2 separate regions of the Homo sapiens genome follow, and region 2 is linked to region 1. The links come from fine-mapping of genetic effects on plasma protein levels. A gene starts in region 1. The other region holds a variant in brackets. All regions are shown on one strand. Distances are between the middles of the regions. Region 1 holds the start of SELENOP (selenoprotein P). Region 2 has its middle 14 kb from the start of SELENOP.

Evidence for each region. A credible set is the group of variants that fine-mapping cannot tell apart. PIP is the chance, under the fine-mapping model, that this variant and not a neighbour inherited with it causes the effect. The UK Biobank Pharma Proteomics Project read protein levels with antibody pairs (Olink). The fine-mapping took linkage between variants from a reference panel, not from the people measured, so its PIPs are less certain.
Region 2: its variant is the best candidate, but not a certain one, in a credible set for the plasma level of the SELENOP protein (UK Biobank, PIP 0.51).

What each region holds. Positions count from the first base shown.
Region 1 is chr5:42,806,926-42,816,433 of GRCh38, reverse strand. It overlaps SELENOP (selenoprotein P), which reads left to right and starts at 4,542. Exons shown (of 5, transcript NM_005410.4): 1 at 4,542-4,598; 2 at 8,068-8,283; 3 at 9,326-9,508. The coding sequence starts at 8,081. RefSeq lists an enhancer at 3,818-4,383.
Region 2 is chr5:42,821,435-42,830,942 of GRCh38, reverse strand. No RefSeq gene overlaps it. Among named protein-coding and RNA genes, the nearest start is that of SELENOP, 14 kb to the right of the region's middle. The variant T/AT (reference allele first, on the strand shown) is at 4,848.

The DNA.
Region 1 (9,508 bases):
GATGTGAGAGTTGAAAGACCTATAAGGGGCTTCTCTTGCTTTATGATGTCTTATTATTATTTTTTTTCCTCTGGTTGATGAAATGCCAGGGTGAAAGGGATAGCCAAATGGACTAAAGGACAAGTGCCACTCTAGTTATTCGGCAGAGTGCCCAGTAAAGGTCCACCACAATACCACCACACATCTGCTCAGGGATGAACAAGGGAAGACAGATTGATAAGCTCTTGAAAATTCTTAAGCTCACTGCATCCCTTCAGGTCTACAAGGAATGCTAAGTCTCCTCCCTGCTGTGAGAGACAAGAAGTGAACTTAGTGTTGGGAGACGGAAGCTGGATGGCCCTCGGGGGCTGACTGGCAGGGACTTCGGGATATAGCAGAGAGAGCTTGGCATGACTTATTACTCCTGGCTGCAGAATCCTGGAAAAGAGCTACATGCAGCCCACACCTGGTCAACTGAAGGACCACCTTAGTGGAAGGGGGACAATCAGGGCCTCTGGCCTGCCATGTGCACAAGCATAACAATTGCTTTTGTTTAATGTGCAGATGGAATATTTGATCCATTCCAACCAGGCATTTGCATCTTGGTATGCTGTCTTAATTGCCAAAGTTTGTTTTAAGTCTTCAACTTCTATGATCCTCTAGTAAAATGAATGTTTCCTTCAGCACCAATTTTTATTAGTTTTTAAATCAAAGAAAGCTAAACACCATTTTATATTTAATAATGCTTCTTGTATGATTTCTATACCAGATGAGTTAAGTTTTACCTTTTTATTAGTGTGTTATTAATGTTAAACTTAATTTTAATAAAACCTTGTAGACATATTTATCCAATTTTTTATGTTTGACCATAAGGTAAGATTTTATAGACTCTTTTTAATCTTTTATAATTTTTGTTAAAGAGCAAGTTGATGCTTTAAGAAAAACCTGTTGCATTTTTACTTTAATGTCCAGTTCACAGAAAAACTGGATGATACCTTTTTAACTTTAGCTAATATGTTTACCCACAGAATTTTCTTTAAAATTAATATTTTAAAACTTGCTTAAACTGTTAAAACAATAATTTTTTTAACCTTTTAATGTAGGTAAAAATTAATTCTTATGCCTCCTTATAATTTTTTTTACCAAAGTTATATTTTACTTTTCTTATACACCTTGTACATAAACAGTTTCTTTAATAGTACTCAGGAGGCCTTATTACTTTTAAATTATACAACATTTTTTGCATAAAAATTTTTTTATAACATTTTCTTTTACGACTTTCGCAGACAATTTTTTAACATGTCTCAACTTTCTGACTTATTACAAACAGTGTTTTTTTTTTAACAACCAGTTAATTTATTTTAGGAGAAGAATTTACCTTATAACACTCTTTTTACATAAATTCTGCCTCCCCCCCTTTTTTTTTTCCTGTTTTTTTTTTAAGATAACCATTCCTTTTTTTTTTTTTTAAAGCGAACTTTCTTTATGTCTTTGGACTAGACAGTCTAAGGCCACAAGATTAGAAGTTACCATAATACATGTTACACTGTTAACTTTTAGCAAACTTCACTTTTGTTGAAAACCTTGTAAGTTTGGGATTTCAATTATCCTTTGCTATTAATAAGACCTTGTTTAGTCTAAATTAACTTAGAATTGGTATAGATGGCCTCTTTTTCTCTCTGCTGGTCTTTCCTTGCCTCTGCCAGCCGCTTATGCTGCTGTTCTCTTAACTACTGTAGCGGGGAAGGGGGTCTAAAAGCAGCTGTAATTGTCTATGTACTGAAACTGGTCTGGGTGCCTTGGCTTACAGGTTACCTTGTGTCATACCTTTGAAACAAAGGACCTGTCCAGGCTTCCTTCTGATGGCCAACCCACCTCTAATGCTGGCCAGTCTATTTCACACAAAGTTCTAAGTTTTCCTGGTGTCACAGTAACACCGTAATCTCCCTTAAATTCTTTCTTGAAAATTTTCTTTTAACATAGTTCCTAGTGGGGTGGGCTTATTTGTGCCTGACCCATGTTTTTTTTCCGAGACAAAATACCACGCTCACACCACACACACTCACCACAAGAAAAAGAACGGGTAAAGAGGCTGCACACACACTTTTACCGTTTATACCAAACCAAAATCACGAAATTCAAAATCCGAGTACCAAAAAATTCAAGCCAAGTCAAAATCAAAACCAAAGTATCCAGCAATTCAAGTCAAGTCAAAACCAGAACAAAAGTGCCAATGCAGGCACGCTGTGGGTGATCAGGCCACACTTCCACTCAGATGGAGTGGGGCAAGTTCCAAAGACTAGTCTTACCAAGTCAAGCCAAGTCAAAACCAGAACAAAAGTGCCAATGCAGGCACGCTGTGGGTGATCAGGCCACACTTCCACTCAGATGGAGTGGGGCAAGTTCCAAAGACTAGTCTTACCAAGTCAAGCCAAGTCAAAACCAGAACAAAAGTGCCAATACAGGCACGCCGTGGGTGATCAGGCCACACTTCCACTCAGATGGAGTGGGGCAAGTTCCAAAGACTAGTCTTACCAAGTTTCAGATGTCGCGACTCCAAGTGCCAGTTCTTTCCGGTGTTCAGCCACCGTGTTAATCCTCTGCAGGGGCCTGCTATGCGCTGCTCTGGCAAGGCATTCCACCGGGGCAATTTCCTACCCGGGAGCGTTCTTTGGATCGCGTCACTCAGGCTGACTGGAGTCCCCTGCAGGGACGCTCCACAGGACAGGCCTAAGCCGCCTAACGGGTTAGCTCTGCCGTCTATGTCTATCAGTTACCTCGTTTCCTGGTCAGGGAACCAAGAAATGTAGCAGGACGAGCTGCAGACAAAACCTTTCAGACACTGAGTTGTAGAAAGAAGGGCTTTATTCAGCTGGGAGCGTGGGCAAGCCACTGCCTTAAAATCCGAGCTCCCCGAGTGCACAATTTCTGTCCCTTTTAAAGGCTCACAATACTAAAGATTTCACATGTAAGGGTTGTGATTGATTGGAGCAAGCAAGGGGTACATGACAAGGGCTGCGTGCACCGGTGGTCAGAGAGAAACAGAACAGGGCAGGGAGTTTCACAGTGTTCTTCTGTACAATGTCTGGAATCTATGAATAACATCGGTTTCGAAGTTATGAATTGATTTTTAACTACTGGGTTTAGGCCAGGCAGGCCCAGGCCTGGTTTGGGCCTGGCACCGGGCTGCCTGTCTTTGATTTCACATCCTTGTTTTTTTTTTTCCTTAAAACAGGTACTGAGTATAAAACAATATGAGAGGGTCTCTCTCTTTCCTCAATATGACTACTTAAATTGGTCAAGGAAATGAACTACAGGGAGGAATATCTGCTTTGTACAAAGATTTTTTTAATGACACTCTTTAAAAAAATGATTATGTATATGTGCATTTTAACTGGATTCTCAAAGAGATATGGGACCCCAAAAGGCAAGTAACAACTGCTCAGGGCAAGTAAAGAGAACTTGGATTTCAAATGGTAACCTCCTAATTTGATAGGAAGTTTCTTGAAAGGAAGGATAACATCTGAGTCTCTTTGTAGTTCCTGCACCTTGTACAACAGTATTCAGCATACAGCAATCAGTGGGGGATTATTTGGAAAAAAATTAATTGATGAAAAAAGCAAGGCCTACTCGAAAACCATTGCTATCTAGGAATGACATCATTTGACATTGCTCCTTACCTCACCTACAGTGAGCATGCCAACTTACAAGCGTTACCAGAAAGAAAATACCCTCTTCTGAAATAGTAGGAATTAGCTATTTCATTTGTACATCTTGAAATTTCCACACTCTTTCCATGTCCAACTACTACCTTTAATTTTTATTTTTATGGTATTCACATTTGTAAAGATTTTATATTCGATCCTCAAAAAATTCTGGGGATGCATAGGTCTTCCAGGAAGTACGACTTCAGTGACAATAAAAATGAGGTCTGATTTCCCTCAGATAGGAAGTCTATTTTTCTATTTCCTTAAATTAACAAGAAAAGAGCAGTGGTCCTGTGAAATCCCATATGAATTCAAGTTATAAACATAGAACACAATCGACGTGTAAGTCTGTAACAACAGGAGACCAGAGTAACTTGTAACAGCAGGTGACTTTTCTAACAAAGGTCACACTGTGTGGGCTAAGCTAGCACCTCATCACTGCAAGAAGCAAAACAAAAGGAAAAAAAAGCTTCTCTCTCTCTTTTTTTTTTTTTTTTAAAGCAGCAGCATAATTCGCTGGCTCAGCAAATGTTTTTCCCTGTTATAGTTTGGGAAAGAAGGCAACTTGGAGGCCTTGTTTACCCTTAGCCCTTCCTCCCGCCCCCGACTGTACCATTAAATCCTAGATTCTAGGGTGACTGAAAAGGATAGGGAATAAATTAGTAATTGTCAAAATGTTTTCCCCATATTATGCATGGCAGCACTTGCTACTTTCTTTTAAGTTGATAACAATCAGCTCAGGGGTTTGCTCTGCTTGCAAGGTCACTGCAAGAATGAACATTGAACTTTGGACTATACCTGAGGGGTGAGGTAAACAACAGGACTATAAATATCAGAGTGTGCTGCTGTGGCTTTGTGGAGCTGCCAGAGTAAAGCAAAGAGAAAGGAAGCAGGCCCGTTGGAAGTGGTTGTGTAAGTAGGAACTTCGTGTTTTCTGATACTTTATTCTTTTAAAGTTTGGTAAATATTTTTTGAGTCTGATAAATTGTTTTTTTCCATAGAATAGATTCAGAAAACTGGTGGATAGAGGAAATAAAAATAATAAAAGAGAAAAAGAATAAGAAGAGTCTGAACTTAGGTGTGGTAGGTGAAGTTCCCAGTGCGCACATTTGTCAGTTCTTGATTTCTGCCCTGTCTTCTGCACAGCTGAGAGCAGAGGAAGCTGGAGAAATCCAAACCTTTTATTCTATAATCTGTTGTGATGTTACATAGGCAGTATTATATGTTCAAATTTAAATATTTTCCACTGAAGGGCAGAGTAAGAACAAACAGGGAAAAAACCCAGCCATTTGGATTTGAAGAGCAGACACTGAAATATGCTCATTCTAGTGTTGTAGAAATGTCCAGGGATATTGTGAGCAGTTTCAGAAGAAAAAGTGGTGGAATGGGGTACAGTAGGTTCAGTCCACAGTGCAGAAGTGGTCACCCTTAAAGAAGCTAAAACCCATGTCAACAATTAGGTGGTCTGTGATTAAATGCAAACTTTTGTATTTTAAATGGTGAATGAGAGCATTCAGGTGAATTAGGGGCTTTCAGATGCTGGCCTAAAGTTCAGAGGTGGAGGACAGAGAAAGTTTGTACATATCCTGCTTTTTAATGAGTAATTTTAAATAAATGTAGGTCTGAATGTGGCCATGAAATTTAAGTTTCGCAATTGAAAAGTGGTGACATAGTGAAATTTACAACTACTTTTCAATTCTTATTGGATCAGCTTCCAGGAAACCCAATTTTGTTATTTATCTTCATTATTTTTATATAGCTGTCTGACAACTATAATTATCAAAGGTTTACGGTGTAAGAAATAATTTTAAGAAAACAAAATTGAGCAGCCTGTTGATTATAATGACAGAAGAAATCCGAAAGTGTGAACTCTTAAGCTACAACTCTCTGCCAATGGGTTATTTTTTCATCATAAACCTAAATGAGGGAAATGAGTGAAACAGTCTTTTCATTTGTATTCACCATTCAGCTACTTGCAATATGTGCTCTGGGCTGGACGCGGTGGCTCACGCTTGTAATCCCAGCACTTTGGGAGGCCAAGGCAGGCGGATCACGAGGTGAGGAGTGTAAGACCAGCCTGGCCAACATGGTGAAACCCCGTCTCTACTAAAAATAAAAAAATTAGCAGGACGTGGTGGCGAGAGCCTGTAATCCCAGCTACTTGGGAGGGTGAGGTAGGAGAATTGCTTGAACCCGGGAGGCGAAGTTTGCAGTGAGCTGAGATTGCGCCATTGCACTCCAGCCTGGGTAACAGAGCAAGACTCCGTCTCAAAAAATAAATAAATAAATAAATAGATAAATAAATATGTGCTCTGTGGCAAAGTGAAAAAACCAAGTGCTGATTTTTTGCCAAGGTTCTGTAACTACTGAATTTGTGGTCTAGGAAACAGAGAAAACCTAGCCTTTCTATTAAGAAATAAAACAGCTTGAATTATTTTTATGTTTTCTTTGGCATCTTAGTGCATAAACAAAAATAGTTGGCGGCTATAGTTATTACAAGGTGATCTATCTAAAAACTCTCAATATATTGCAGTAGCTAAGATGTAGCTTAGGATTTGACAGAACTAGTTTTAATCCAGTCTCTTTTGTGACTGACTTTCTCTCTGTGTGATCATAGACAAGTTACCTAAACTCTTAGCCATGGTTTTTCTCAACTGCAAAAGGGGATAATGGTCACATAATTGTTTTAAGGATTAACTGACATGATATATAAAAGTGCTTAGTGCCACCTGAATATATTTGTATAAAAGTTAAATAAACATTAGCTATAATAAGGATAATTGTATTATCATTGTAAATACCATTCTAGAGGAATTTTCTAGAAACAGTCCAAATATATCTTCTTCTTCTTCTTAAAATATTAGAATATTTTAAATATTAAAATAAGTAGTTGGAGTGGCCTTAAATAAGTAAGTTAATTTGTCCTCTCTCTCTACCTCTCTCACCTCACTCTCTCTAGTTAAGTTCTTATCAAGATATCATATATAGGTAAGAGTTTTGATGTGTTAAATAATGTGAAAGACAATCAGGGTTAAAAATTCTATCTATATCTACCAGTGCATTAAAGCCCAGATCAATCTGATTTTAACTTTTCTATTCTTCTCTTAATTCTGGGCTCACTCTAAGTAATTTACCATTAGCTCCCCACCTCCAAAGAAATGCATCTGCTTTTAAAAATTTCAAATCAGTGCTTGAAAATATATTGATTTCCCAGTTTTCAAATTTTGTCCTGATCTCTCCCCACAGATTCTTACATCAAAATGAGCCTGAATTACTTGTGAGGATTTTTCTTTGCTCCTCTCTGCTGAATGTGTTCCTTTTTCTTTATCACCTGTCTACAGTTCACCTGTTTTTGAACATTTCTGTTTAGAGAGCTAGCCCTAGTTTTGAGGATATTTCTAGTCAGGTATTTAAAAGCATTTTAATTTCGTTGCTCAGAGGAAGCATCTTTTTACCAAAGAAAGTGCTGTCTAGTCATAGGAATTTTCTAGTCATAGGAACTTTCCAATAAATAGGCTAATTGAGTGTGGATTTCAAAGAGTCTTAAATGGTAGAGGGGGCAGATGTGTGATATTTCTACTTGGTTAGATACATACAGCCAGACTTCAAGGAATAAGAGAAACAAAAGGGAGCCATACCCAAGAGATAAATATAGAATGTTTGAACTTGAAGAGCTAAGGGCCCGACATGAGCCACATTCATGTTGGTATACTGTCTTTTCTGCCATCATCTTTTTTCCTTGGTTCTCTTTTTTTGCTGGCTCTTTTCATTTCTGTGCAGAATGCTCTATTTATCCCTTTCTTCTTCTTCTTTTGTTTTTTTTTTTTTGAGACAGAGTCTCGTTCTGTCGCCCAGGCTGGAGTGCAGGGGCGCGATCTCAGCTCACTGCAAGCTCCACCGCCCGGGTTCACACCATTCTCCTGCCTCAGCCTCCTGAGTAGCTGGGACTACAGGTGTCTGCCACCAAGCCTGGCTAATTTTTTTTTTTTTTTTGTATAATTTTAGTAGAGAAGGGGTTTCACCGTGTTAGCCAGGATGGTCTCGATCTCCTGACATCGTGATCTGCCAGCCTCGGCCTCCCAAAGTGCTGGGATTACAGGCGTGAGCCACCACACCCGGCCTATCCCTTTCTTCTTGGAGGATAGAAAGAACAGTCAGAACTTGGTGTGTCTCAAACAAAAGTTAGGTTGTGTTTGCAGAATGTTACATAAGTCACAGACTTATTTTTATAAGCCACAGTCTGAACATAACTTTCTGGAGACAGAATTCATGGGCTAGGTATTTTTAGGAAGTGGAATTATGTCTGCAGGATTTATAGAAATTCATAGTTAGGACTGTGAAGTTAACTATGAAGAAGAGTGACAGGTTTTCTCTTTTACAGGACAACCCCAGCAATGTGGAGAAGCCTGGGGCTTGCCCTGGCTCTCTGTCTCCTCCCATCGGGAGGAACAGAGAGCCAGGACCAAAGCTCCTTATGTAAGCAACCCCCAGCCTGGAGCATAAGAGATCAAGATCCAATGCTAAACTCCAATGGTTCAGTGACTGTGGTTGCTCTTCTTCAAGCCAGCTGATACCTGTGCATACTGCAGGCATCTAAGTAAGACAGTCTTTCTGTGGCTTAAAATACCTTAAGGGGAAGGCTATTAAATACACACACGCATATAGACATAAAATAAAAGTGTAAATAATGTATTAAGTCACACTTTTAGAAAAACTATGTGTTTGCATAGAACATATTAGAAGAGAGAAACTAGGATGATACACACCAAAATGTTTACAGTGGGTTTCCTAGGGTTATGGAAATTTTTTCTTCTTTTTGTGCACCTATATTTTATAACTTCCTACTAAATATGTATTACTTGTGTAATGAAAATGCTCTAAAATGTACTTCTGCAAATAGAACAGTTACTTCAATACAAGAGGCAGAGAAGACTGTTTTGTCAGAGTAGAAAGAACACTAGGCTTGCTATCAAAGTCTTGGGTTATTTAACAAATAAATATAAAAAATATTTGTTGAGTTATTCACCAGATATTCACTGGGTGGAATTCTCCTTACAGTCATCCAGTGGTATCTGTGCAGGATTGGTTCCAGGATCCCCCTCATACACCAAAATCCATGGAGCTCAAATCCTTTATATAAAATGGCATGTATAACCTATGCATATACTTTCATATGCTTTAATCATCTCTAGATTACTTATAATACCTAACACAATGTAAATGCTATGTAAGGAATTTTTATACTGTATTTAGTGAATAATGAATGACAAGAAAAAAAGTCTACATGTTCACTACTATAGATGCAGCCATCTTTTTTTTTCCAACCATTTTTTATCTGTGGTTGGTTGAATCCATTCTACCTATAAGATACATTCAAAATATATACACTTCATCGTGCTAATTTGAGAACTAAACCAATGTTTGTTTAAGCATAAGGTTTTAATTAAGCACAAGTTTTAAGTAATTCTAAAAATGAAAGTTTTAAAATCTTTTACAGCAATATAAAGAATAGGTGCAGTATGGGTTAGTTAAAAATAAGAAGGAGAGTTTCACATAGAAAATTAAGGAAGAGGGAGAAAAACCACTAATCAAATCAAATGAGATTATTCATTTTATGTATTTCTTCCCAAATATTTTAGATTAGAAGACCTGCGAGTAAAACTGAAGAAAGAAGGATATTCTAATATTTCTTATATTGTTGTTAATCATCAAGGAATCTCTTCTCGATTAAAATACACACATCTTAAGAATAAGGTTTCAGAGCATATTCCTGTTTATCAACAAGAAGAAAACCAAACAGATGTCTGGACTCTTTTAAATGG
Region 2 (9,508 bases), 15 kb before region 1:
GAAAATAAAACCATTCAAGTATAGTGTCCCAGAAGCCGAATGAAGACACTGGTTAAGAAAAACTAAAGAGTTTATTGAGTCAGATACTGATAAGTAATCATAAGAAGATAGAAAACTGATCGTTGGAGTTAGTAACATAAAAGCCATTGGCAACTTATACAAAGGAAGACGTAGAAAGGAGTCATGAAGACAGAAACTTGAGACACTTTGCTGCAAAAGGAGTAAATGAGCTGAAGCTAGAAGGAGATGTGCTCTTAAGGAATACAAAAAAGACCAAAGACACACAGGGCAAGGTCTCCCTCCAAGCTATCATCCAGATTCTCTTCTCCAAATACCACCACAGCTTCAGTTTTTCCTATTGTCATAGCGATATGATATGAGGGAGACAGGCAGTTAGGTAGGTAGGGAGGGAAGTAGGTCGGCAGACACAAACACATGTACATTTTTAATGGGGTTTAGAGCCTCTGGTACTTGGGTAGCTGGCACTAGGTCCATTAATGGGACTCTGTAGGCACGTAAACTCACAGCAAGGCTTCTGGGACAAATGTAGCCTGCATCTTGAGAGCTGATTCCAGGAGCTCAGATAGCAAGTCAGAAAGTAGCACTGTTACTGAAAAACCAGGGGTTCAGGCTAGGTCCTGCTGCTTGCCACACAGAAAGCCAACCACTGAGATGACGATTATTGCCTAGAAAGAAGGCTTTAACTGAGTGCTGTAGCTGAGGAGATGAAAGCTCAGCCTCAAATTCATCTCCCTAACTGACTAAAACTAGGGGTTTATATAGCAAGAGAGAAATGTAACAATGTGTAAGAAAACAGAAACTACTACTTTTTTTTTTTTTGAGAGGCCTGAGGGTCCTTTCCTGAGGAAGGAACTCAGATAAAACAAATACAAGTTTCAAGCTTTAACAGCAGAAGGGGCTGGGCACAGTGGCTCACGCCTGTAATCCCAGCACTTTGGGAGGCCAAGGCAGGTGGATCACCTGAGGTCGGGAGTTTGAGACTAGCCTGACCAACATGGAGAAACCCTGTCTCTACTAAAAATACAAAATTAGCCAAATGTGGTGGCACATGCCTGTAATCCCAGCTACTCAGGAGGCTGAGGCAGGAGAATCACTTGAACCCGTGAGGCGGAGGTTGCGGTTAGCCGAGATTGCGCCATTGCACTCCAGCATCGGCAACAAGAGTGAAACTCCATCTCAAAAACAAACAAACAAACAAAACCCAACAACAATTAAAAAAAAAACAGAAGAAGGGTCAATTTCTATGTTTACCCAAAAACAACTGTCTATGAGAATATTGGGCCCATTTCAGCAGTAGAGGTCAGATATACCCATGCCCTAGGCATTACCAGGATGGGGACACTGTCTGGACCCCAGGAAGACCTATTTCTCCAAAATACTGTGAGAACTCAGTCTAAGCCAAGTCTAACCTGATGGCTTGAACTAAGGTCTGCACTGTGGCCTTCATTTTCGGTGATCTAGATCTCTGAGCTCACAAGATATTTATCCTGGTGCCACCCTAGTGAAATCAATGACACTGTAATTCCCATTACCTAGCACAGTGTGGCTGCTTAATCAATGCTCATTTATTTAGAAATAAATGAATAAATAAATGAAGGAATATAGCCAGTTTTGTTGCTTAGCATCTTTTACTATCTTATATAGATTCAGCTTTCCTGGTGTCAGTATTGTACTAAGTAATATTCTTTGTGTGAGTACGAAATAGCCAATGTGCATCCTGCAAGGGCTCAGGTATGCCAAAGCAATTGATTACAAGGCTGCTTCCTGTAGCTTTCTCCAGCCAAAAAAATAAAAATAGCCGTATAGGAACATACTGCTTTCCCTTTCTATAGGCCTCCAACCGCTAGGCATAAATTTCTTTTCAAACTTTCCAGAAAACCTTACCCTTGGACTAAGATCAAGAAAAGAAACTGCAGGCTTTTCTCAGAGAAAATGCAAAGAAGATTTGACTGAAGTCTTATGGTTACCTGGCCCCAGGCCTGAGGGGCTGTGTCTTGGCACTGACAGTGGAAGCCGAGGAAGATGGGAGCCTGCTGAAAATTGCTTCTGACAGAAAGACAATCATGAAGCTGTTTTCCCGCAGGCTGTCATGCCAACTCACAAATTCCTTAACTTAAACATACACAAACATAATCCTCATAAGACTCTTGACTCTTTTCTCATATCAGTCACTTCTTACTGTTTGTAGAGACTCTAAATTGCATTACTTTAAGGGAAAAAAATTGGCTTCCTTTTCTCAGGACACAAAACCAAGCATAATATACAATTGTGGTCACCAAGATGGTAAGACATGAATTTTGAGTCTTCCTAAATATTGAATCTGGCAACAACTTTAGAGCAACACTTTAAAATTGAGTCCGACCCCAAACTATTCTGACTCAGTGCAAAAATGGCCCCACTAGGCTTCTTTTATAAAGACATAAAATCAGCCTAAATGCCCATCGATGATAGACTGGATAAAGAAAATGTGGTGCATATACACCATGGAATACTATACTGCCATAAAAAACAATGAGATCATGTCCTTTGCAGGAACATGGATGGAGCTGGAGGCTGTTATTTTTAGCAAACTAACACAGCAACAGAAAACCATATACTTCATGTTCCCACTTATAAGTGGGAGCTAAATGATGAGAACACACGGACACATAGAGGGGAACAACAGACACTGAGGCTTATTGGAGGGTGGAGGGTGGAAGGAAGGAGAGGATCAGGAAAAATAACTAATGGACTAGGCTTAATACATGGGTGATGAAATAGTCTCTACAACAAACCCCCATGACACAAGTTTACCTGTGTAACAAACGTGCTCTTGTACCCCTGAACTTAAAAGTTAAAAAAAAGTATCTGTACTGGGTATCTGTAAGAAGAAAGCTGATGGTTGAAAAGGCAGAAGTTGGCCTTTTGAGGTTTTCTGGACTACCCATGATACACATGGCTGCTTTGCTGCCTTTCAATGCATCCCTCACTGTGCACCAAAGGAATCTTTTAAAATACAAATCTGATCATGTTACACACAAACTCCCACAAAGTCTACATGGCCTGGCATGGTGTAGCCTCTGTACATGTTTCCTATTTCATTGCTTACCTTTGGCTCCAGCTACATAGGCTTTGCTCATTTCCTTCAATCTGTCCTCCTCCCTCCTACCATGTCCTTGCACGTGCTCTTTCATCTGCCTCCAATTCCACCTGGTTAAGTTTTACACTTCTTTATAATTGCTGCTAATTTTTACCTCCCCAGGGAAGCTTTTGCCAAATTCTATGAACTGGGTGACTTCTCTATTTTTCTATTCTTTGCTATTTAACACTTACTGACATTCATTCTAGCATTGAACTATAAGCTCTATAAGGATAGCGATGTATTTTCAAGTGTTTAGAACGATATCAGCACTTAGATATTCCAGAACTACTTGTTCAGTTAAGAAAAACACACCCTAAGGACAGTGACCAAGACACTACAAACAACATGTCTTCTGTTGCTGGGATTCCCGAGGATTTTTGCCATACATCTTTTTATGTGACTTCTGGGAAACAGGAGGAAGCAAATATCATTTGGGAGAGCAGATCTATTAAAAAAGGAGCTTTTCACATAGCCATCAAATGGAGATAGAAAACAGGTCTCTAACTCTTTGAAACATTTTTTCCCTTGACTATGATGCAAATAAATTTCCAGTTCTTGTTCCTGGCCAATTTCAGCTCAACTTAGTTTAGTGAAACATAATAAATGTTTTCTGAGGACCTTTTTTTGTGGCAAGTATTATGATGGTAGCTGTAGAGTATACAAAACTGAGTAAAACACACTCTTGGCCCTTAGAAGTTCATAGCCTGGAAGTATAATTTTAAAAATACACAAATAGTAGAGGAATATGTTAAAACAATGCTCTGAAGGATCCAGGGAGGGAAGGATTTCCTGGACCACCCTATTCCTGCATCTTCGCAGGGTGGGACAAGGGGGAGGGACCTGTTGTTTTTCAGAGGCCATGTAGTACAAGTTATGCAAGTGAAGAAGTCACTACAGACAGTTTATTTTCTCTTGCAGCTTTAGGTCTATTTATAGTCCAGTTCCTGGGGTAAAAGTAGCTTATTAAAGCATTGTATTATTTGATGCATAATAAAGTTTGTATATATAGCTAATACTTCTATTAAAATGTATGTTGAATTAATAGCTTTTCAAAATCTACCATTTGATAATGTATCAATTCTATAGTAATCAAAAGCTAAGAAAAGGAAATAGAAGTTCATTACCTAGATATTTCCATTAAAAACAATCAGCTGTTTAATTCAGCTAGAGAATTTATTAGTTTTAAAGACTCTTGCCATAAAGTAAAACAAGAAATGTGAGAATACAACCTTTCAAATGTTTCCAAAGCAGTTTCAAAGTTCCTGAATACATATTTTATTTAGTGAGTAGCACCTATATGCATAGAATTCAGATAAGCATTATGGGAAAACTTAGGAAATACAAGTTTAACAGCAATACAAAAACCACATAGCAGTAGGAGAGAATTGGACTTAAGATATGTGCCCAATGAATAGTGCAAATTTTAAGTGCCATATTAAGGAGGGAGATCTCACAAAAGGGGCTTTGAGGTTTGAAATAACAATGCCAGCTAACAACCTTTATATATATATGTGTGTGTGTGTGTATATATGTATGTGTGTGTGTGTGTGTGTGTGTGTATACACATTTTAGAGATGGGGGTTTGTCATATTGACCCAGCCTGTTCTTGAACTCCTGAGCTCAAGCAATCTGCCCATCTTGGGCTACCAAAGTGCTGGGATTATGGGCCTGAGCCACCATGCCCAGTCTCTAGCTAACACTCTTA[T/AT]AAGCACTTATTCAGGCATTCTGCTAGTCATTGATGTGTGTTTTCTTATTCAACCCTCACAGTCACATACACACTGTTAGGTAACAGAAACCTGACTGAAATGGGAGAGTTCTCTGACCCTCTTATGGGACTTGCAACAGGGGTGTGGCTTGTTTGCTTGGCCACTGCACATTCAAACCCCTTAAGGGAGGGGGAGCACACAGACAGGCAGGTGCAGGAGACGGGGTGAGCGCTTTTGGGCTCTAGCCCCATGGCAGCATCTAGGGGTGTGTTACAATTAATGCTCTTTTAGCAGTTGCTGTTCGCGGATGGCTAAGTGTTAAACCAGCTCAGTGGAGAGTCAGGGTGGCAGCCTTTTACGCCCTGTCCTCTTGGTACCCGGGTCTTTGTCTAGCATCCAGGAAGAATCAGGTCCTACAGACTTGAAGGATGGTGAATACAGAGATTTTATTGAATGATGGAGGAGGCTTTCAGCAGGATGGATGGGGAGCTGGAAAGCGGATGGAGTGAGAAGATAATCTTCCCCTGGGGTTTGGCCATCCCATGGCTGATCTCTCTGACAGTCCCCAGCCGAACTCCTCTCGATGTTCAGACACTCTTTCTCCTCTCTCCTCTGCCACACTGCTCTGCTGCTCTTCTGCTCATGGAGCCTGAGGTTTGGAGTTTTTATGGGTACAGGATGGGGGTGTGGTGGGCCAGGGTGGTCCTGGAAAAGGCAACATTTGGCACGAAAACAGGAATGCCTGTTCCTATTTAGGGCTGCAGGTTTCCAGGCTTGAGGATGGGGCCTTTGCCAGGGAACCGCTCTCTTTTAACCAGTATTTCCCTGCCTCTTGTCCATATCATAATCACAGTGGCATAATGAAGTAAAGACTCATCCTTCGTCACATAATAACGTTCAGGAGTAGGCAGTCTGGGGCTGATACAAATGCGTGAGAAACCATCAAGTTTCTAGCTTCTTCTAACCTTCAGCTGCATCATGCTCAGTGTGTGTTTTTTAGCCCCATGGTTATAAAATGACTGGTCCACTTAAGGCATCGCACTGGCATCCCAGTAGAAAGACAACAAAAGCAACAAGTGCAAATAAATGGAAAACTTTCCTAAGATTTTCTAGCAGACTTCAGATTTCCACTCCATCTCGTTGGTTAGAACGATATCACATGGACACCCAGTGGCATAACTGGTTGAGAAATGAAGGCTTTTTGTTTTTCTTTCATCTGACAACATAGCTGCCTAAAAAGCTATGGAGTTGGATATTGGTGAAGAAGGAAGGAAATTGACATCAAATAGACATTTAGCAGTGCCACCACAGATGAGTACTACTATTATTCTCGTTTTGCCTGAGGAAACCTAGACATTGAGAGTTAAGTAACCTGCCCAAGGTCATCTAGTTAATATGTAGAAAAGCCGGATACAAACACAGGCAATCTGATTTCCAGAGCCTGAACTTTTAACTCTGTGCTAGGATTTGAATCTGAGAGTAGAAGGAAAGGCAATTTGTGACAGGAAGATAGTGTTAACAAAGGTGCAGTGCGTGTGTGCATGTGTACGTGTGTGCATGTGTACGTGTGCACATGTGTATGTGTGTACATGTGCATGCATGTACATTGGAACCCTAGATGCTGATCATGTGTGAGAGAGGCCCTGAGGCTGGAATAAAGGAGCCATGCTGAGGAGTGGAGGGAAGTCAGGTGGGAAGGAGATCTGGATTTATACCATCTGCCTGGGTAAGCCTTCAGGAACATGAACTGCGTCGGTCCTGAAATTGAAATAATGACAATATATATGCAAATATTGTCAAGAAGGCATGAGGAGATGCCAAATATGAGCAGAGCCAGAACCCAGGGTGTGGTAAATCAAAAGTTGAAGCTGGAACATCCTAAGAAGCAGTAGCCAAGGTTTGGTCCAGGATGTTCTGCAGTCAGATGTGTCCAGCAGTCAAAGATATATGAGCTGGAGGCCAGGGTCTGATGGTTTGGAGTTAGAGTTGGGGAATTAGAATCCTGGAATATTACATACCTAGGTTCTTGTTTGTTTTATGGCAGTACATCCCAGCACTTTAGGAATATTATTGGCCCATTACTTAGCACTAGTTTTTAACTCTTATAGTTAAACGCTGTAACATTTAAGAGGATAAGATGACCCCAGACTATGAGAGCACAAAAGAAACAGTTGTTTTCCATGGAAACATGTTACTTTTAAATATTAGCTTTACCTTTGTTATCTCACAGGGTAAGTGGAGTGGGAACATACAAAAATAGGTAGAATTAAAAAGGAAGGAGCTGTGCAAAGTGATGAACCACATCAGCTTTGGATTATATATTTTTCAGTGTCTTTGTTGAGTACAGAGCTTGCACCAAGAGATGTCAGATTAGTGTAAGGAGACCATTACTTAGAATATGTGAGGCTCAGCAAGAGAACATGGCCCCACTCTGAGTGGTGGGCTTTCTGACCTGGTAGTGTTCAAACAGAGGCTAGAAGATTGTTGAGGAGAGAGATTTCAAAATTGCTTTCTGGATAAAGTTTGACTAAAAGGATTTCAAATCTGCATTTCATAATTGTACAGTATGCCCATCTGAAATCGATCAGAATTGTAATCTCCAAAAAGCAATCTGAATCTGCAAAGCCTTTCCTATTGCTTGCAGACTCAGCAGCCCTGAGTCTGCTGCTAGTCAAGTAGTAGGAAAAGTTGTGCAAAGCCTTTGTCCTCCTCACTCTAGTTTCTTCTTTGTCCAGTTGAAAAAGACTAGCAAATGAGGTCTTTTGAAGAATAGTTATAATGACTATTCTCCAGCAACCACGAGAATGGAATTCAACTTAAGGTGTTATGCATTTATTTAAATGTACCAAGCCTCAGCATGCATGTGTCTAGCCTTTATATACATGCATATATAAATGTGTGTCTGTGTGTATATATATATATATATATTTGTATGTACATACACACTTATCCACATTTATGATGAAAAATAAATTCATGTTTATTGTTGCAGTTAAACTCTGGAGCTCTGAAACCATTGGGTTTGAATCCCAGCTCCTCTATCTTTTAGCTGTGAATATAGGTCAAGTTACTTAACATCTTCGTACCTATTTTCTCACAGGGTAAAGACTATTGTGATGATTAAATGTGTTATTTATTACCTATAAAAGACAGAATATGACTGGAATATAGTAAACATCCAATAAATGATAGCTATTATTATTCTAGACTTTCTAGAAAATACATAAAAATAAAAAGAAGAACTAAAAATCATGTTTATTCTGAAGGGGAACCACTGTTAATTCTGAGCATATCTTCCCAGTCTTTGTTCATGTGCTTGTCTTCTGTTTACTCTCACTCTGGAGTCATGCTCCAGGGCCTAGGTTTCCAATGCACATGCATGCACACATACACATGCACATACACAGAAATATACGTGCACACATGATTTTATGCTTCTTGTAAAAGTTAGAATATGTACCTTAAAGATTAGTATAGGGGAAAAGGGAAAACTTCCCCTTTGCCTTCCGAAGATTTGCAGAAAATCACTGATAAGATGCATATTAATAGGAGAAAAGGCATACATATTTATTAATGTGTACATGGGAGCCTTTAAAATTAAGACCCAAAGATACAGGGGAAATTGTCCATTTTTATGTTTAGGTTTAACAAAGTATGGGCAGCAAGTAGAAACATGATTGGACAAAAAATATGATCTAATGTTAATAGACTGAGTGGGGAAACTCAGAAAGGTCTGTCTGTCTAGATTTTTCTTCGCCTCTCTGAGCATGTATTCCTTTTTTTGGATATGGCACAGGGCCCTCTCTGGAATGGGGGTCTTATGACCTATAATCAAACAAGATAAGTCTAGTTATCTAATTTTTTAGTGGCCAGTTTTTGTGCAGTTATAGTGGAGGGAAAGTTAGAGTAAAATTTTTAGATTTTATGGCTGGCTTTGGGTAAAGGGGTTCTAGTTTCTATGACCCACCTTGAGTAAGACAGATTCTAGTTTTTATGGCTAGCCTTGAGAGAGAATGGGATTGAGAGATAGTAGGGTAGGAGAAGGTCAGAGAAAAATTTCTGTTTTGAGGCTGCTTCTGCGGCCTTCATTTTGGGTATGTTTTTCTGAGTCCCAACATTAGACAATCCTACACAAATATGTATTCAGGACTAAGGTCATGGCTTGTTTTAATAGTTATAACTCTTAAATGACAATTGAGTCATTTTTCAAAGAGAATAAATATTTTGCCATTTTTTCATTAATTCTCGGATCAGCGAAAGTATATATTCTAAATTTGATTGCTTTATTTAAATATTTATATTTTTCAGTTACATAAACATGGAAAACTGTAAAATAAAAATGAATGTCTTATTTACAAAATCTTTGCTTCAGTTAGAAAGGGAAAATGAGTATACACATTACAGACCATTCATAGAATAAAATAATGTGCATTTTAAAAAGAATGAGGTAACTCTATACACACTGACACAGAAGAATGTCTATGACGGGGAAAGATTTCCATGATGCTTAAATTAAAAGCATTGTGGAATAATAAATAGAGAATGACCGTCTTTATACATAGTGTTTTAAAATTTTTTTTAGCTCATCAGCTATTGTTAGTGTTAGCGTATTTTATGTGTGGCTCAAGACAATTATTTCAATCTGGCCTAGGGAAGCCAA